Regions from separate parts of the Homo sapiens genome. Here region 1 is linked to region 2. Evidence: fine-mapped expression QTL. Tissue or cell type: whole blood. Region 2 holds a variant in brackets; the other region holds the start of a gene. All regions are shown on one strand. Distances are from middle to middle. Region 1 holds the start of GLIPR1L2 (GLIPR1 like 2). Region 2 has its middle 40 kb from the start of GLIPR1.

What was found. PIP is the estimated chance that this variant, and not a neighbour inherited with it, causes the effect.
Region 1: GLIPR1L2 starts here. The variant in region 2 is fine-mapped to the expression of GLIPR1L2 in whole blood (INTERVAL, PIP above 0.99).

Annotation. Positions count from the first base shown.
Region 1 is chr12:75,386,517-75,394,862 of GRCh38, reverse strand. GLIPR1L2 (GLIPR1 like 2) reads right to left here and starts at 3,774. Exons shown (of 6, transcript NM_001270396.2): 1 at 3,513-3,774. The coding sequence starts at 3,746. It also overlaps a transcript of CAPS2 not described here. RefSeq lists an enhancer at 3,713-3,842 and a silencer at 3,800-3,972.
Region 2 is chr12:75,436,809-75,445,154 of GRCh38, reverse strand. No RefSeq gene overlaps it. Among named protein-coding and RNA genes, the nearest start is that of GLIPR1, 40 kb to the left of the region's middle. The variant C/G (reference allele first, on the strand shown) is at 3,986.

The DNA of each region.
Region 1 (8,346 bases), 50 kb after region 2:
ATACTTTATATTGTTAAGATGCCTGTTCTACCCAAAATGTTACAAATCAAGGAAACCCATATCAAAATCCCAATAATGTTTTTTTTTTTTTTTTTTTTTGCAGAAATACAAAAATACATCTCAAAATTCGTAAAAAATCTGAAAGGACCCTGTATGGCCAAAATAATCTTGAAGAAGATGAAAAAAGTTGAAGAATGCACACTTCCTAATTTCTACTTACCAGTATTCTACAGTAATCATTGTGGAACTATTAATAGCATACAGACATATTAGACTAACAGAATGGAATAGAGGGCCCCAAAATAAATGCCAGCATATATGGTCAAACGATTTTTAACAAGGGTGGAAAGACCATTTTATGGGGAAAATAACAATCTTTCCAGCAAATGAAGTTAGGAAAACTGGATATCCACATGCAAAAGAATAAGCTGGACCCTTACCTTACACAATATACAAAACTTAACTCAAAGACCTAAAACTATAAAACCTTTAAAAAGCACAGGGGAAAAGCTTCATGATATTGAATTTGGCAATGACTTCTTGGATACGACAAAAAATACATACAATAACAACAAAAAATGATAAATTATACTTCATTGACGTTAAAAACTTTTGTTTATCAAAGGATATTATCAATAGAGTGCAAAGGCAACTTACAAAACGGGAGAAAATACTTTCAAATCATATATCTGAAAAAGATTAATATCCAGAATCTATAAAAATTCCTATAATTCAACAACAAAAAATCTAACAAGTTGGCCAAAAAATGTGCAAACGACTTGAATAGATAGTTCTTCAAAGAAGAGAAAATCTTGGTCAAGAAGCAAATAAAAAGATGCTCAATATCAGTAATCATTAGGGAAATGCAGATAAAAAATACAGTGAGGTATCACTTCATAACTGCTAGATGGTTATCATTAAGAAAAAAAGAGGAATAAGGAAAATAAAACAGAAAATAACAAGTGTTATCAAGGATGTGGAGAAATTGAACCCTTGAACATTCTTGGTGGGAATGTAAAATGGTGCAGCCACTATGGAAAACAGAATGGGGGTTCTTTGAAAAATTAAACAGAATTATCATATGATACAGCAATTCCAGTTCTGGGTATATACCCAAAAACAGCAAAATCAGGAACTGGAGCAGATAAATGTACACCCATGTCTATAGCAGTATTATTCACAACAGCCAAATAATGGAAGCAATCTAAATATCCACTGACCAATGAATGGATAAACAAAATGTGGTATATGCATACAGTAGAATATTATTCAGCTGTAAAAAGACAGGTAATTCTGACACATGCTACAACATGGGTGAACTTTATAGACATTATACCAAATGAAATAAGCTAGTAACAAAGACAAATATTATATGATTCCACTTATATTTGGTACCTTAAGAAGTCAAATTAATAGGAATAGAAAGTAGAATGGTGATAGAGGCCTGGGAGGAGGGGAGATGGAGAGTAAAGTAATTATTTGATGGGTATGGAGTCTCAGTTCAGGAAGACGAAAAAATTTTGGAGATAGGTGGTGGTAATGGGTGCACAACAATGCAAATGTACTTAATGCCACTGAACTATACACTTAAAAATGGTTAAAATGGTAAATGTTATGTCCTGTATATTGTAATACAATTTTTTAAAAACAACAATTTTTTTGGTATTTAAAAGCAAGGTAGAACAAAAGTACTACACGGCAATAGCATGAATAAGGATGGAAAGTATTCAGAATTTGTGTTCTAAGATCTTATTAATATTTGGGTGGAGTTTACAGGTATTAACTTTTGGAATTTATAAAAAGTACATACATTAAAATACTAAAAATAACCAATAAAAGAGTTTAAATAAGCTGAGTGATGTCCAAATCTGCTAAAGAAACATTTTAAATAGGCCATACTATTATGATAGACTATACTATTTACAGTTAATATTTATGTCCTAATAAAATACATGGGAAAAATATACATTAACTTCAAGAAAGAAGAAAAAGGTAAAAATTTAGGGTGGGACTTTAACCTATATATCAAATACTATTCCTTTAAAAATGTCTATATTTAAAAATATCGATTGTGGGTATACAGGTATATTATTTTATATACCTTATGTTTGAAATACTATATAATTTTTAGAGATGAGATAGAAAACCTATGAAAAGTTGTATTAGAAAGTATTATGTGTTTATTAATTTTCAGGAGTAAGGATAATCTTCAAATTGGGAAGAAACAGAATTAGTCACAAAAAATGGGAAATTAGTTGAAACTCCCAAATATCCCCAAACTCTATAATTGAATTCAAAAGAAAAAGAATTGGCTTAGAAAAAAGTATCTTCAGCAGATAGAACCAAATGCTAGCATAGTTCTATAAGACAGCATATAATCTGACATGGAAATGCTGACAATATAAAAGGTAAAGGAAATGACGAAGAAAGAACTCAAGTATGTCCTATCAAAATAGTATTTTAAAATCAACATTAAAACAAATGACCATTTTTGTAATTTATTCATTTAGCAAGTAATTGAACATGTCCAAATCAGTGAGGATGTGGTGAAAACAGAACAGCTGGTATTTGCTAAATTTGGCACTACCCTTTAGCATAGCAATTGCTATGTGTTAAATTAATAAAAAATATCATACCCTTAATTTATTTATCCCATTTCTGAAATTTGTGCTAAGAACTAATGCTGAAGGAAGAAAAGACATGTCTAGGAAAGTAGTCCTTGCAATATAATTTATAAGTTTGAAGCTTCTAATTCCCTAAGAGGACAGTTATTTATTTGCCGGATTTTCAGTCATTTTAATGACAGTCAGGAAAACTCAATAGCAACCAGGGAATAGTTGAGTTGTTAAATGACTATAGGGTGTAAAAGAGGGGGAAAGCAAGAACCGCATTGTAAGGTAAGGCAAAATCAGGGTCAAGACTAGGGTGAGGAAACTGAGACACTTCCTTAGGAGCCAAATTTGGAATGGGCACAAAAAAAAAAAATCAAGATAACAAACATTTTTAAAAGGCAAAGCTAATGTGACATCGATGATGGAAAAAGCTAAAAATAAAAATTTCAAATACAAACAGAATCTCATCTTGATTTGCACCACCCTGAGAGTGTCGCACTTGTTTTTCCCTAATCCAGACCCAAGGAACCTGTCTTTGTTAAATTTTTTAACATTTTCTTTACCCTTGATATTGATATTTTTGCACTGATTTTTAATTTTTAAAAACCCGTTGCATTAAAATATCATTTTCTTGAATTGGCGCCCCCTTAAAATCTGCACTTCAGGCCAGTGCCTCCATCACCTTAGTCCTGGCCCTGTGTAATATCATGGTAATAAGCATGTGTTAGAGTGTCCGCAGTTTTTCTCTGTGTAAACTTCACGTGTACTTTAAAAACCAAGCTAAAAGTGCGGTTCTCCGCGATCCTTCAGCCTCAGAGCAGTGGCCCCAACTACCCGAGATCCAGGGAGGCGTTGTGGCAACGGTAGTGGAAGGGTCGGCAAACCGCCTTCCGGCCTCACCATGAAGCGCAAGTTAGACCCTCGGGGAATGACGTCGCCCCGCAGCTCATTGTGGAGGTTCACGTACTCGTTGATAAAGTCTACGTCCTCCTCGTCTGGCAAAAATCTGGCGTTCAAACTAGAACCCAGTAGCAGTAGCCACAGCTCACAGAGCCGCAGCTTCAAAACGCCCCCTACTGCCAGGGGTAGGGACTGGGCCCTCCACTCCCGGGCGAAGGGCCTTGCGGCCTCCATGGTCCACCGGCCGCTGACAGGCCAGTGCGCACGCGCTGGCCGTCCCAGTGACCTGCCAATCTACGGAGGACGCAAGCAAGCCTTGTCCCGCCTCCCGGAAGGAGAAAGGGAGGAGGGAGGAGGGAAAAACAAAGGAGGGAGGAGGGGGTAAGGAGGAGGGAGGAGAGAAGAGGGAGGGGAGAGTGGGTAGGGGAGGGGGAGAGGAGGGGAAAGCTAGACCTGCAGAGTGAAGAAAGCTGGTAATAGATGTCTGACAAACTAAAGAAAGACTTGTGTTACGTGAGTAAGCCCTTTTCACTAAACTAATGTAGTGAAATGTTATCCCGAATTGATTTCTGACACTGAATGATATGTCGTTATTAATGAGTCATCAGTTTGTATGGTAAATGCCAATTGCTGAGTAACAGGTCTGAGGAACCTTCTAATTGTGCCAGGTGAAATGATTTTTCTGCGATACAGATACAAATTCAATTAAATTTTTTTTCCCCATTACCTGTTGAGTTGGAAATTTGGTGCAGGGCCTGCCTTTTATTTTCCTCAGGGACAGAATGGAATACAGAAATATTGCTAGTTCTTAAGGCCAAAGAAGTTCTTAAGGCCAACTTAATTGATGAGATTTTTTTCAGTTTTTAAATGAACCTTTGTGGGAAACCACAAAATAAATGGGAGTGAAGGGAGAGTAGGGATCACCAAACTCTTCAAAGGTTAAAACATTTCTACTTCTTCTCTCATCAGCACAATTCAGACAGCCCGGAATATCAAGATTCATCTTTTTCACTAATTGTGGCATTCACAGTAAGAACGAACTCTTTTGTTTTCTTTTTTTGTTCCAGACAAAATTGGCTAATATCTAGCTGATTTTGGTCTGATCTGTTTACCTCCAAACATTTTCCTCAAAAACAAAACAAAACAAAACCAACTTGCTTTGAAGACTTTAAATTCTAAGCATGGAAAAAAAGCAAGTATTAGTTTTGGAATACACGTTTGCATATTACATATTGTGCTTAATAGCATTAAGCAGATATGGAAAATTGACATTGGGAGAGAATTTTACTACAAAACATTGTAACAGGTTAGCCAAACATTTATAAAAAGAAAAGTGCTTTTAAAAATTGTCTGTGATGCACACAATTGAAAAACAATAGACCTATGTAAGATGGTTTCATTTATGCCCTTGAATACTTACTACTATGACTGCATAGTAGTAAGTTTTAAGTGATTGAGAAAGATCAGTAGACAAGACACAGATCCAGCTTTCAAGCAGCTTACAATTTAGTGAATTAGCAATCAGGCAGTATTTAAAACGTGATAAATACAAAGCCAAAATTCTATTGCTTGGTACTCTTGTGGAGGAGCAGGGAAGCCTTTCTGGAAATTGTATACAGAAAGTGAAACAGACAAGTCTAAGATAGCATTCTAAACAAAGGGAAAAGCATGTAATGTGCCTAAGGAGAGGAAGATCCTAAACGCTAGAAGTATTTTAGTATGGCTAGAACCTATTTAAGGGTGAAGGTGGCAAGTGCTGAAAGATGCAATTCTTTTATTATGGTGGTACTGTTGTTAGACTGCAAAAAATGCTAAAGAAAAAGTATAAATAGAATAATGCAATCTTAGATTTGGAAGAAATTTTAGCCACTATTGCTAGCCTCCTGTGTTAGGTATACTCTCCGGAACATCACTGACAGGTGATCATCACATCCTTTTCTTAAATAATTAGACCAACAGGGAAGCCCATTCCACTGCTAGACATCTCATTCAATAAATATTTCCTTGGTACTTCCTGTGTGTCACAGCCCAGCTAAAGGCTCAAATGCTGAACAAGCTAGACATGGAGTCTATCCACAGGGAGCTTTTAATTAAAGGTGACACAGATGAATCATCAAACAGTTACAATACAGAGTGGTGAATACTATTTTTAATCTATTTCACAAATATTTAATGTGTCAGGCACTATTTAAAATGCTTGGACAATATCAACTCACTCAAGTCACACAAATCTTAAGAAATAGTTATTATCCCTTTAACAGATGGAAAAACAACTGAGAAAAAGAGAAATCAAATTGCCTGAGGCCACCCAGCCAGGGAGTGGTAGAGCTACTTCTGTGTTTTTTTTGTTTTGTTTTGTTTTTTTTACCAATTCCTTTTCTAAAAATAGACTCTTTTTTAATAGCAGTTTTAGGTTCACAACAAAACTGAGAGGAAGGTACAGAGATTTCTCATGTAACTCCTGTCCCCACACATACATAAACTCCCTCATTATCAACATCCCACAACAGAGTAGTACATTTACAACTGATGAACCTACATTTATCCATTATTCCCACCCAGAGTTCATAGTGTATATTAGGGCTCATTCTTGGTGTTGCACATTTCATGGGTTGGTATAAATGTATAATGACATGTTTCCAGCATTTAGTACCATATAGAGTCGTTTTGCTGCCTAAAAATCCCTGGTGCTCAGACTATTCATCTCTCCCTGCCTCCTAACCCCGGCAACTACTAATTTTTTTTTACTGTCTTCATAGTTTTGCTTTTTCCAGAATGTCATATAGTTGGAGTCATACAGTATGTAGTCTTTTCAGATTGGCTTCTTTCACTTAGTAATATGTGTGTAAATTTCTTCCATGTCTTTTCGTGGCTTGATACCTAATTTCTTTTTAGCACTGAATAATTTTTCATTTTCTGGATGTACCAACATTTCTTTATTCCAGTAGCTACTGAAGGACATGTTGGCTGATTCTAGGTATTGGTGTATTATTCTATTCTCATGCCACTAATAAAGACAGACCCAAGACTGGGTAATTTATAAAGGAAAGAGGTTTGATGAACTCACAGTTCCACATGGCTGGGAGCCCTCGCAATCATAGTGGAAGACGAAGGAGGAGCAAAGGGACATCTTACATGGTGGCAGCCAAGAGACCATGTGCAGGGGAACTACTCTTTATAAAACCATCAGATCTCATGAGACATAATCATTACCATGAGAACAGCACGGGAAAAACCTGCCCCCATGATTCAGTTACCTCTCACCTAGTCTCTCCCATGACACGTGGGGATTATTACAATTCAGGGTAAGATTTGGGTGGGGACACAGAGCCAAACCATATCAATTTGCAAATGTGAATACAGTTGTTATAAACATCTTTGTGCAGGTTTCTGTGTAGACATAAGTTTTCAACTCCTTTGGATAAATACCATGAGCATGATTGCTGGATCATAACTATATGTTATAGTAAATGCTATTGTTTGGATATTTGTCCCTTTCAAAATTCATGTTGAAACTTAATCCCCAATGTAACAGTATTGAAAGGTGGAGCCTTTAAGAAGTGATTGGGTCTGTCCTCATGAATGTATTGATCCATTCGTAGATTAATGGGTTAATGGATTAGTTTAGCCCCTTTACCATGTGATACTCTGTGCTGCCTTGGGATTCTGCAGAGTCCCCAGTAGCAAGAAGGGCCACACCAGATATGGCCCCTTGACTTTGAAATTCTCAGCCTCCATAATTCTAAGAAGTCAATTCCTTTTCTTTATAACTTACTCAGTTTCAGGTATTTTCTTATGAGCAACATTAAACAGACTATGGCAGTAAGCATAATGTTCAGTTTTTTAAGAAACTGCTAAACTATGTTCCAAAGTGGCTGTGCCATTTTGCATTCCCACCAGCAGTGAATGAGAGCTCATGTTCCTCCACATCCTTGTCAGCATTTGGTGTTGCCAGTGTTCTGGATTTTGGCCATTCTAAAAGGTGTGTAGTGGTATTTCATTGGTATTTTAATGTGCGTTTTCCTGGTGACATATGATGCACCTTTTCATATGCTTATTTGAGTACTGTATGTCTTCTTTGGTGAGGTGTCCATTAAGGTTTTTGACCCATTTTTAAATTAAACTGTTTGTTTTTCGATTGTTGAGTTTAAAGAGTCTTTGCATATTGTGCGTAATAGTTTTTATTGCATATATCTTCTGTAAGTATTTTTCTCCCAGGCCATGGCTTGTTTTTTCATTCTCTTGAGAATGTCTTTTGCTGAGTAGAAATTTTTAGTTTTAATGGCACCCAGCTTATCGATTTGTTCTTTCATAAATCATACCTTTTGTGTTGTATCTAAAAGGTTATTGCCAAATTAAAGATCATCTAGATTTTCTCTTATATAACCTTCTGGGAGTTTATACTTTTGTATTTACATTTAGGTCTGTGATCCATTTTGATTAATTTTTGTGAAGGGTATAAAGTTTGTGCTTAGACTGGTTTTTTTTTCTTGTATATGGACGTTCAGTTGTTCCAGAACCATTTGTTGAAAAGACTACATTTCTCCATTATATTGCCTTTGCTCCTTTGTCAAAGATCAGTTGACTTTATTTATGCTGTTCTATTTCTCAGCTCTCTATTCTGTTCCATGGATTTATTTCTACTTTCACCAATACTATACCTTTTAAATTATTGTATTTTTGCTATTGTTTGAATATGTCCCCCTAAATTCATATGCTGGAAAATTAATCCCCAATACAACAGCATTGAGGGGTGGGATCTTTAAGAGGTGATTGGGTCATGAGAGCCCTGTCCTCATGAATTGTATTAATGCCATTATCACAGGATTGGTAA
Region 2 (8,346 bases):
TCGGCTTTTCAGGGCAGATGTCCCTGCGGCTTTCTGCGGTGTTTGTGCCCGTGGTTTATTGAGAATGGAGAATGGCGATGACTTTTACCAAGCATACTGCCTGTAAACATTTTGTTAACAAGGCACATCCTGTACAGCCCTAGATCCCTTAAACCTTGATTCCATACAACACATGTTTTTGTGAGTTCAAGGTTGTGGCAAAGTTACAGATTAACAGCATCTCAGGGCAAAGCAATTGTTCAGAGAACAGGTTAAAATGGAGTTTCTTATGTCTTCCTTTTCTACATAGACACAGTAACAGTCTGATCTCTCTTTTCCCTACAGCTTTGATCTATGTGAAATGTCACTCTCAGTTACTCAGGTGAATCTGCTTTACCCATGTGGCAATATGGAGGCACATCCCTGAGATTTCCCTTCAAGAGAACTTGTCAAAAGGAGTGCAGTGAGCTGACAGTCTCCAGCTGCAGCACCTTTGAAATCTGCCACAGCATTTCAGCCAAGGCCACTCTTTTCCTGGCCAGCCCCACTCAATGACTAAGCATGACACTGTACTAAGACATTTTTGCCCAACACATACTTCTCCCGACACAAAAGATCTCCACTGAGGATTTTTGTGCCACAACTTTCCCTTGCGTGGGCTCAGATTTTTTCAGAGTTGCAATTAGAGCCTCTTCCTCCTGAATCTCTGTCCTTCCCCCAGCCCCACTCCCCTTCAAAAGTATCAGATATACATTGTGGTATAAAGCATTTTCTGTCTACTCCTGTTTCCTCTGCCATTTATTGTGTGTGTGTGTGTGTGTGTGTGTGTGTGTGTGTGTGTGTGTGATATAATAAAACTTTTTTCATGGCCACTGTAATTTAAATTTTATGTAATTTTCATGTGCCATAAAATACACTTTTTACAAAATGTTCTTAAGAAACTTCTATATTTTAGGACACATTTAGATTTGCAGAAAATTTTATAGTACAGAGTTCCCATATACCTCATACCAACTTTCCCCTATTGTTAACATCTTACATTGAACATTTTTCATGATTAATGAGCCAATGTTGATACATTATCATTAACCTAAAGTCCACACTTTATTTTTTTTTTTTTAGTTTTTACTTAATACCCTTTTATTTTCCCTTCCAAAATCCCATTCAGGATATCATATTACATTGAGTAGACATACTTCTAATCTTAGTCTCCTTGTGTTTGTGATGGTTTCTCAGACTTCCTTTGTTTTTGATGACTTTGACAGTTTTAAAGAGTACTTGTCAGGTATTTTAGAGAATGTTCCTCATTTGAGATTCATCTGTTGCTTTTCTCACAGTTAGGCTGGGATTATGTATTCTTGGGAAGAAGACCACGGAGGAAAAGTGCTATTCTCGTCATATCAAAAATACATACTATTAACGTGACTATTAACATGACTTGATGTTGACCTGATGGTGACCTGGATCACCTGGCTGAGGTAGTGTTTGTCAGTTTTCTCTCCTGTAAAGTTACTCTTTTTCTTTCTCCTTCCCATATCATACTAGTTAATGCCTTAGCTTTTACACCCATCAATGAATAAATCTCTTGCACTTCTCATGGCTGGTTTTAGTAGTGGAGCGTCTGAACTAGTGGCCCAAGGAAGTAAGTCTTAGTAAGTTTAGTAGTGGTCCAAGGAGGTAAGTCTCTTGGACCACTATCTCTTGCGCTTCTGACGTTATCTTGACATTGCCTTCTGAACTAGCACACCTTCTTTTTAGTATTGGAGAATCTGAACTAGCACAGCTGGTTTTAGCAGTGGTTCAAGGAAGTAAGTCGTAAAAAATCATGATCCCTTGCTTAATTACTGGATTTCAGACAGTTTTCAGACCTGGAACCTACAGACTAAAGAGGTGGCTGAATTCCTTGGAAAAACGCCACTGGTACGTACTTTAAAGATTCCTTAGTAACCCCCTTCTGTATGTACTCTAAAGATTTGTCTAGTCTTTCCCAAAGGGATCCATGGACATTTATGTGGTGAATAAGTACTTGAAAAGGAGAATATACACACAGTTGGGAGACTATTGGACACAGGATCTGGGTTGACATTGATATGCAGAGAGCCAAAGTATCACCATGGGCCCTGTTACATGGAGGTGAATGGGGCAAGGTAAAATATTACTAGCTAAAGTTTATCTTGCAGTGGGTCCATTTGGTTTGCAGATTTACTGCATGGTCATTTCTCTGGCTCTCCAATTTACTATTGGATAGTCTTCGACATTGGGTCCTTGGCTGTGGAGGAAGACACAGCCTCTGACATTACCAAGCTTAAAGACAGAAAATAAAAAACAATATTGTTTCCTGAAGATATGACAGAGATTTGTTCCCCTTTAAAGATCTAAAATCGGAGGAATGGTAGTCCCTATCATATATATTTTGGAGACAGAGTGTATTAGTCTGTTTTCACACTGCTGATAAAGATGTACCCTCCAAATCTCATGTCCTCGCATTTCAAAACCATTCATGCCTTCCCAACAGTCCCCCAAAGTCTTAACTCGTTTAAGCATTAACTCAAAAGTCCACAGTCCAAAGTCTCATCTGAGACAAGGCAAGTCTCTTCCTTCTGTGAGCCTGTAAAATCAAAAGCAAGCTAGTTACTTCCTAGATACAATGGGGGTACAGGTATTGGGTAAATACAGCCATTCCAAATGGGAGGAATTGGGTGTAACAAAGGGGTTACAGGGCCCATGCAAGTCTGAAATCCAGCAGGGCAGTCAAATTTTAAAGCTCCAAAATGATCTCCTTTGACTTTATGTTTCACATCCAGGTTACCCTGATGCAAGAGGTAGGTTCCCATGGTCTTGGGCAGCTGTGCCCCTGTGGCTTTGCGGGGTACAGCCTCTCTCCCAGCTGCTTTCATGGGCTGGCATTAAGTATCTGTGGCTTTTCCAGGTGCATGGTGCAAGCTGTTGGTAGATCTACCATTCTGGGGTCTGGAGGACAGTGGTCCTTTTCTCACAGCTCCACTAGGTGGTTCCTCAGTAGGGACTCTGTGTGGGGTCTCTGATGCCACATTTTCTTCCTCACTGCCCTAGCAGAGGTTCTCAATGAGGGCCCCGCCCTTGCAGCAATCTTTTGCCTGGGCATCCAGTTATTTCCATACATCTTCTGAAATCTAGGCTGAAGTTCCCAAACCTCAATTCTTGACTTCTGTGTACCCACAGGCTCAACACTACATGGAAGCTGCCAAGGCTTGAGGCTTCTACCCTCTGAAGCAACAGCCCCAGCTGTACCTTGGCCCCTTTCAGCCACGGCTGGAGCAGCTGGGACACAGGGTACCAAGTTCCTAGACTGCACACAGCACGGGGACCCTGGGCCCAGCCCACAAAACCACTTTTTCCTACTGGCCTGTGATGGGAGGGGCTTCCACAAAGGTCTCTGACATGGCCTGGAGATATTTTCCCCATTGTTTTGGAGATTAACATTAGAATTCTTGCTACTTATGCAAATTTCTGCAGCCAGCTTCAATTTCTCCCCAGAAGAAATTAGTCAGGCTGCAAATTTTCCAAACTTTTATGCTCTGCCTCCCTTATAAAACTGAATGCCTTTAACAGCACCCAAGTCACCTCTTGCTTTGCTGCTTAGAAATTTCTCCCACCAAATACCCTAAATCATATTTCTCAAGTTCAAACTTCCACAAATCTTTAGAGCAGGGGCAAAATGCCGCCAGTCTCTTTGCTAAAACATAACAAGAGTCACCTTTACTCCAGTTCCCAACAAGTTCCTCATCTCCATCTGAGACCACATCAGCCTGGACCTTATTGTCCATATTGCTATCAGCATTTTGGTCAAAGCCATTCACCAAATCTCTAACTTTCCCACATTTTTCTGTCTTCTTCTGAGCCCTCCAAACTGTTCCAACCTCTGCCTGTTACCCAGTTCCAAAGTAGCTTCCACATTTTTGGGTATCTTTTTAGCAATGCCCCACTCTACTGGTACCAATTTACTGAATTAGTCTTTTTCATGCTG[C/G]TGATAAAAACACACCTGAGACTGGGAAGAAAAAGAGGTTTAATTGGACTTATACCTCCACATGGCTGGGGAGGCCTCAGAATCATGGCGAGAGGCAAATGCACTTCTTACATGGTGGTAGCAAGAGAAAATGAAAAAGAAGCAAAAGGAGAAACTCCTGAAAAACCCATCAGATCTCGTGAGGCTTATTCTCTATCACAAGAATAGCATGGGAAAGACTGGCCTCCATTATTCAATTACCTCCCCCTGGGTCCCTCCCAGAACACATGGGGATTCTGGGAGATACAATTCAAATTGAGATTTGGGCGGGGACACAGCCAAACTATATCACAGAGTCTCACTCTGTTGCTCAGGCTGGAGTGAAGTGGCGCAATCTCAGCTCACTGCAACCTCCACCTCCCAGATTCAAGTGATTCTCGTACCTCAGTCTCCTGAGTACCTGGTATTACAGGCATGCACCACCACACCTGGCTAATTTTTTGTATTTTTAGTAGAGGTGGGGTCTCACCATGTTGCCCAGGTCGGTCCCAAACTCCTGTGCTCAGGCAATCCACTTACCTCAGCCTCCCAAAGTGCTAGGATTATAAGCATGAACCACAATACCTGGCCTATCCTATGTATTTTTAATGGACCAGTCTGGTCCCTGCTGAAAATAGATGGATCTTGGAGGAAACCTGTGGACTACCACAAGGTCAACCAAGTAATAGAACCAGTCATAGCTGCCATGCTGAATGTTGTATTATTGCTTGAGCAGATTAATAAGGCCTCAGATATATAGTATGCAGCATTAGTTTGGCAAATGTGTTTTTTTAATCCTAATCAATCAAGAGAATCAGAAATAGTTTGCACTCACATGGAAAGAATAAAATTTTGCCCTAGAGCTATGTTAACAGTTCTACCCACTGACAGAAAATATTTAGAAGAGATCTGGACTGTCTGGAATCCTGTACAATTTCAAATTGATTTATTATATTAATGGCATCATGCTGATCTGGCAGGATGAGCAAGAAGTGACTAGCATACTAGAGGTCTTGGTAAGGCATATGCACTCCAGAGGAATCTGTCACTTCAATAAGAACTTTAGAAATTCAGGGGTCAGGAAGATGCTGATGCACAAATTGCTGCATTTGTATTCTCTATTACAAAGACAGAAGCATAGAAACTGATAGGATACCAAGTGACCATGTGTCCAGAACCATCCATCATGATTTGTGTTTTGTCAGATTGAATCATAAAGTTAGGCAGTTCCAGTTACAACATATCTATAAGATGTAAATGGTACATTTAAGATTGTATCTAAGTAGAAACAGAGGGCATAAGTAAACTACGTAAGCAGACAAGCTAGAGCTCCATATCACCCACCACAGTTGTACCAGTAATCTTCTTTCAGCTCTCACTTAGCACCATATGAGAGATGGGTTCCTGTCCCACTAGATAAAGGAAATGAAAAAAAGTTCATTCTTGGTTTATCAGTTGGTTGGCTTGACAGGTGGGTACAAGCTGAAAATGGACAATGGCTACATTACAGCCATACTCAGGGGCGGCGGCCTTGAAAGACAGTGGTGAGAGAACATTTTCAAGGTGGAACTTTGGGTGTACCTGGCCATTCACTTTGTATGAAAGCAGAAGTGGCCTGAGGTGAAAATAAGTGTGAACTGTGGCAAATGCCTGGCCAGAGTTCAGGGGTTTAGAAATAAAAGAATTGGAAGATCAGAAATAAGAGGGTCTGGGCCAATGACATATGAGTGGAGATATGGGAGTGGGAATGGTGTGTGAAAAGTTTCTATAGATTAATGCCTATCAGAGCCACTGAATAATCAATAGACAAAATGACTCAACCAGTTGACATTAGTCAGCCTTGGTCCTTTTTCTACCCAGAATAAGTATTACAGGCAAATGGAATGCATGAATGCAACACATAAGTCTGTTTGTATGAACTCCCACTTATTGAGGCTGATCCAAATACCTCTGTATGTATGACCTATCAACAATGTAGATGAGTCCCCACCATGCTACTATTTGAAAAGACCAACTGGCATTTTGTAATAAATTGACTATATTAGTCCCCTTCCATCGTGGAAAAGTCAATAGTTCTTTCTCGTTGAAACAGATACCTGTTCTGACACCCATTCTGGATATGAATTTGACTTTCCAGCCCTCAGAGTCTTAGCCAACACCACAATTTGGGGATTTACTGAGTTCCTGATTCACAGGCATAGAATCCCACAGAAGCAAGCATCCAATCAGAGGTATCACTTTGCAGTAAAGGAGTTTCAGGAGGGGTGTCCTGACTGTGGAACCCACTGGTTGTATTATACATCACACTATGTAGAAATTGCTGGCCGATAAACCATTAGGATAGTCTTTTGAAGGTGCAGCTAAAGTTCCAGCATAGAGGCAGTACAGTTGGCCCTCCATATCTGCAGGTGCTGTGTCTGTGGATACAGCCAACTGCAGATCAAAAATCCCACCCTCACCCACACCAAAGGGAGAGAGTGCCAAAGCACCCTTTGGGACAAAGGAAACCAGACTGTGCACTCTCATCTGCCTGAGAGCTCCCTGCTTGTGAGAAGACGATGATTGTGCCCCTCCCAGCGGAGAAATGGGTGTGGTGTTGGGCTCTGTAGGGGAGGAGGGTGGTTCCACCACAGCAGCCAGGCAGTACCAGTGCCTGGAACGGATGTGGAAATAAGGTCTCCTCCACCCCTCATCTACTGCTGTGGATGTCCCTGCTGGGAATTGACACAGTAGCAGCTGTCCCTGCTGGGAATTGGCACAACAGCACCTGGGGAGAACATTTCTAGGGCTATTGAGGGTTAATTCACCCCCACAGATGGTGTGCCTACTGGCCTAAGCTTGCACAAAGGGTGGGGCCCATCCCAATGTGGAGCATTCGCATTCCTATGGCAGAGTGCAAGTGAGTTGCAGAGCTGTCTGTTAAGGTTTGAGGGAAGAGGTTCTGCCCCAAGGCCATTTCAGGAGTAGCCATGGAATGGGAATGTTTCTTGACCTCAGCTGAATTGTGGGCTGAGGATAAGGACAATATCTATTTGAACCAAATAACAAAAGCCCCTGGACAGGTGTGTGATAGGGAAGCAGACTGTCTTCTTGTTTAGTGCAGCCTCCTTTATCCCCCCATAGTGGAGACCTCAGGACCCTGAGCCCCTCTCTGCCCCCCTGCCCCATCAGGGTGGGTGCTTCCACTAGTAACTGGGGTATTCAAAGACGAGTTTGGAAGTCCAGCTCTGCCCAAATTTGTCCCTTGCTCTGGGCTGAGTGAGGAACTCAGGGCATTGAGTAGTCCACAGACCAGCCAACTGCCTGTGACAACAGAAATCCCCTCCCAGTGAACAAAGAAAAAGAACATAGGCATCAACCTCTGTGGTAGCCAGCTTTTACCCATAAGCACCACCTACTGGACTGGAAATTGAAGTGCCCAACCAAATATAAAACCTGCTGACTGAAGAGCACAGTGCTAGGGAATGAGATAAGCTTCCTGAGGCCTCTGCACTCTCAGCCCGGCAGAAGGTAGTGAGCCTGCTTATATACCCAATACATTGCTACTACAATCAGCATTTAAGAAAGCCACCACACAAAAGCTATCTATAACTAAGGAACTCATACAGAACCTTGGCTCACTGAAAGCACCCAGAATCAAAGCCAAATGATTATACACAATATACATTACTACAGTCACACCCTCGAGGGAAAAAAAGTGTCATTCAAAAGAAAGTAAATTCAAAAATAAAAAATGATAGCTTCCTCAGATGAGAAGGAATCAGCGTAAGAATTCCAACAGTATAAAAAACCAGTGTTTCAACACTCCCAAAGGATCATACTAGCTCTCTAGCAATGGATCTTAATCAAAATGAAAATTCTAAAATGACAGATAAAGAATTTAAAATATGTATTGTAAGGAAGCTCAATGAGGTCCAAGATAAAGTTGAAAACCAACACGAAATCAGAAAAAAACTCAGAATATGAATAAACAATTACTAAAGAAATACATATTAAAAAGCAAACTGAACTTCTGGAAATAAAAAAAATTATTGAAGGAGTTACAAAATACAACTGAAAGCTTTAACAATAGACTGGAACAAGCATAAGAAAGACTTTTAGAGCTCGAAGACCAATCCTTTGATTTAACCTAGGCAGACAAAAATTTAAAAAATAAAATAAAATAAATAAACAAAGCCTTCAAGAAATATGGGATTATGTAAAGTGACCAAACCTATGAGTTATAGGCAATCTTAAGCAAGAAGAAGAAGAAGTAAAAAGCTTGGAAAACCTATCCAAGGGAACAATTTGGGAAACCGTCCCTAGTCTTGCTAGAGAATTAGGCATTCAGATACAAGAAGCAA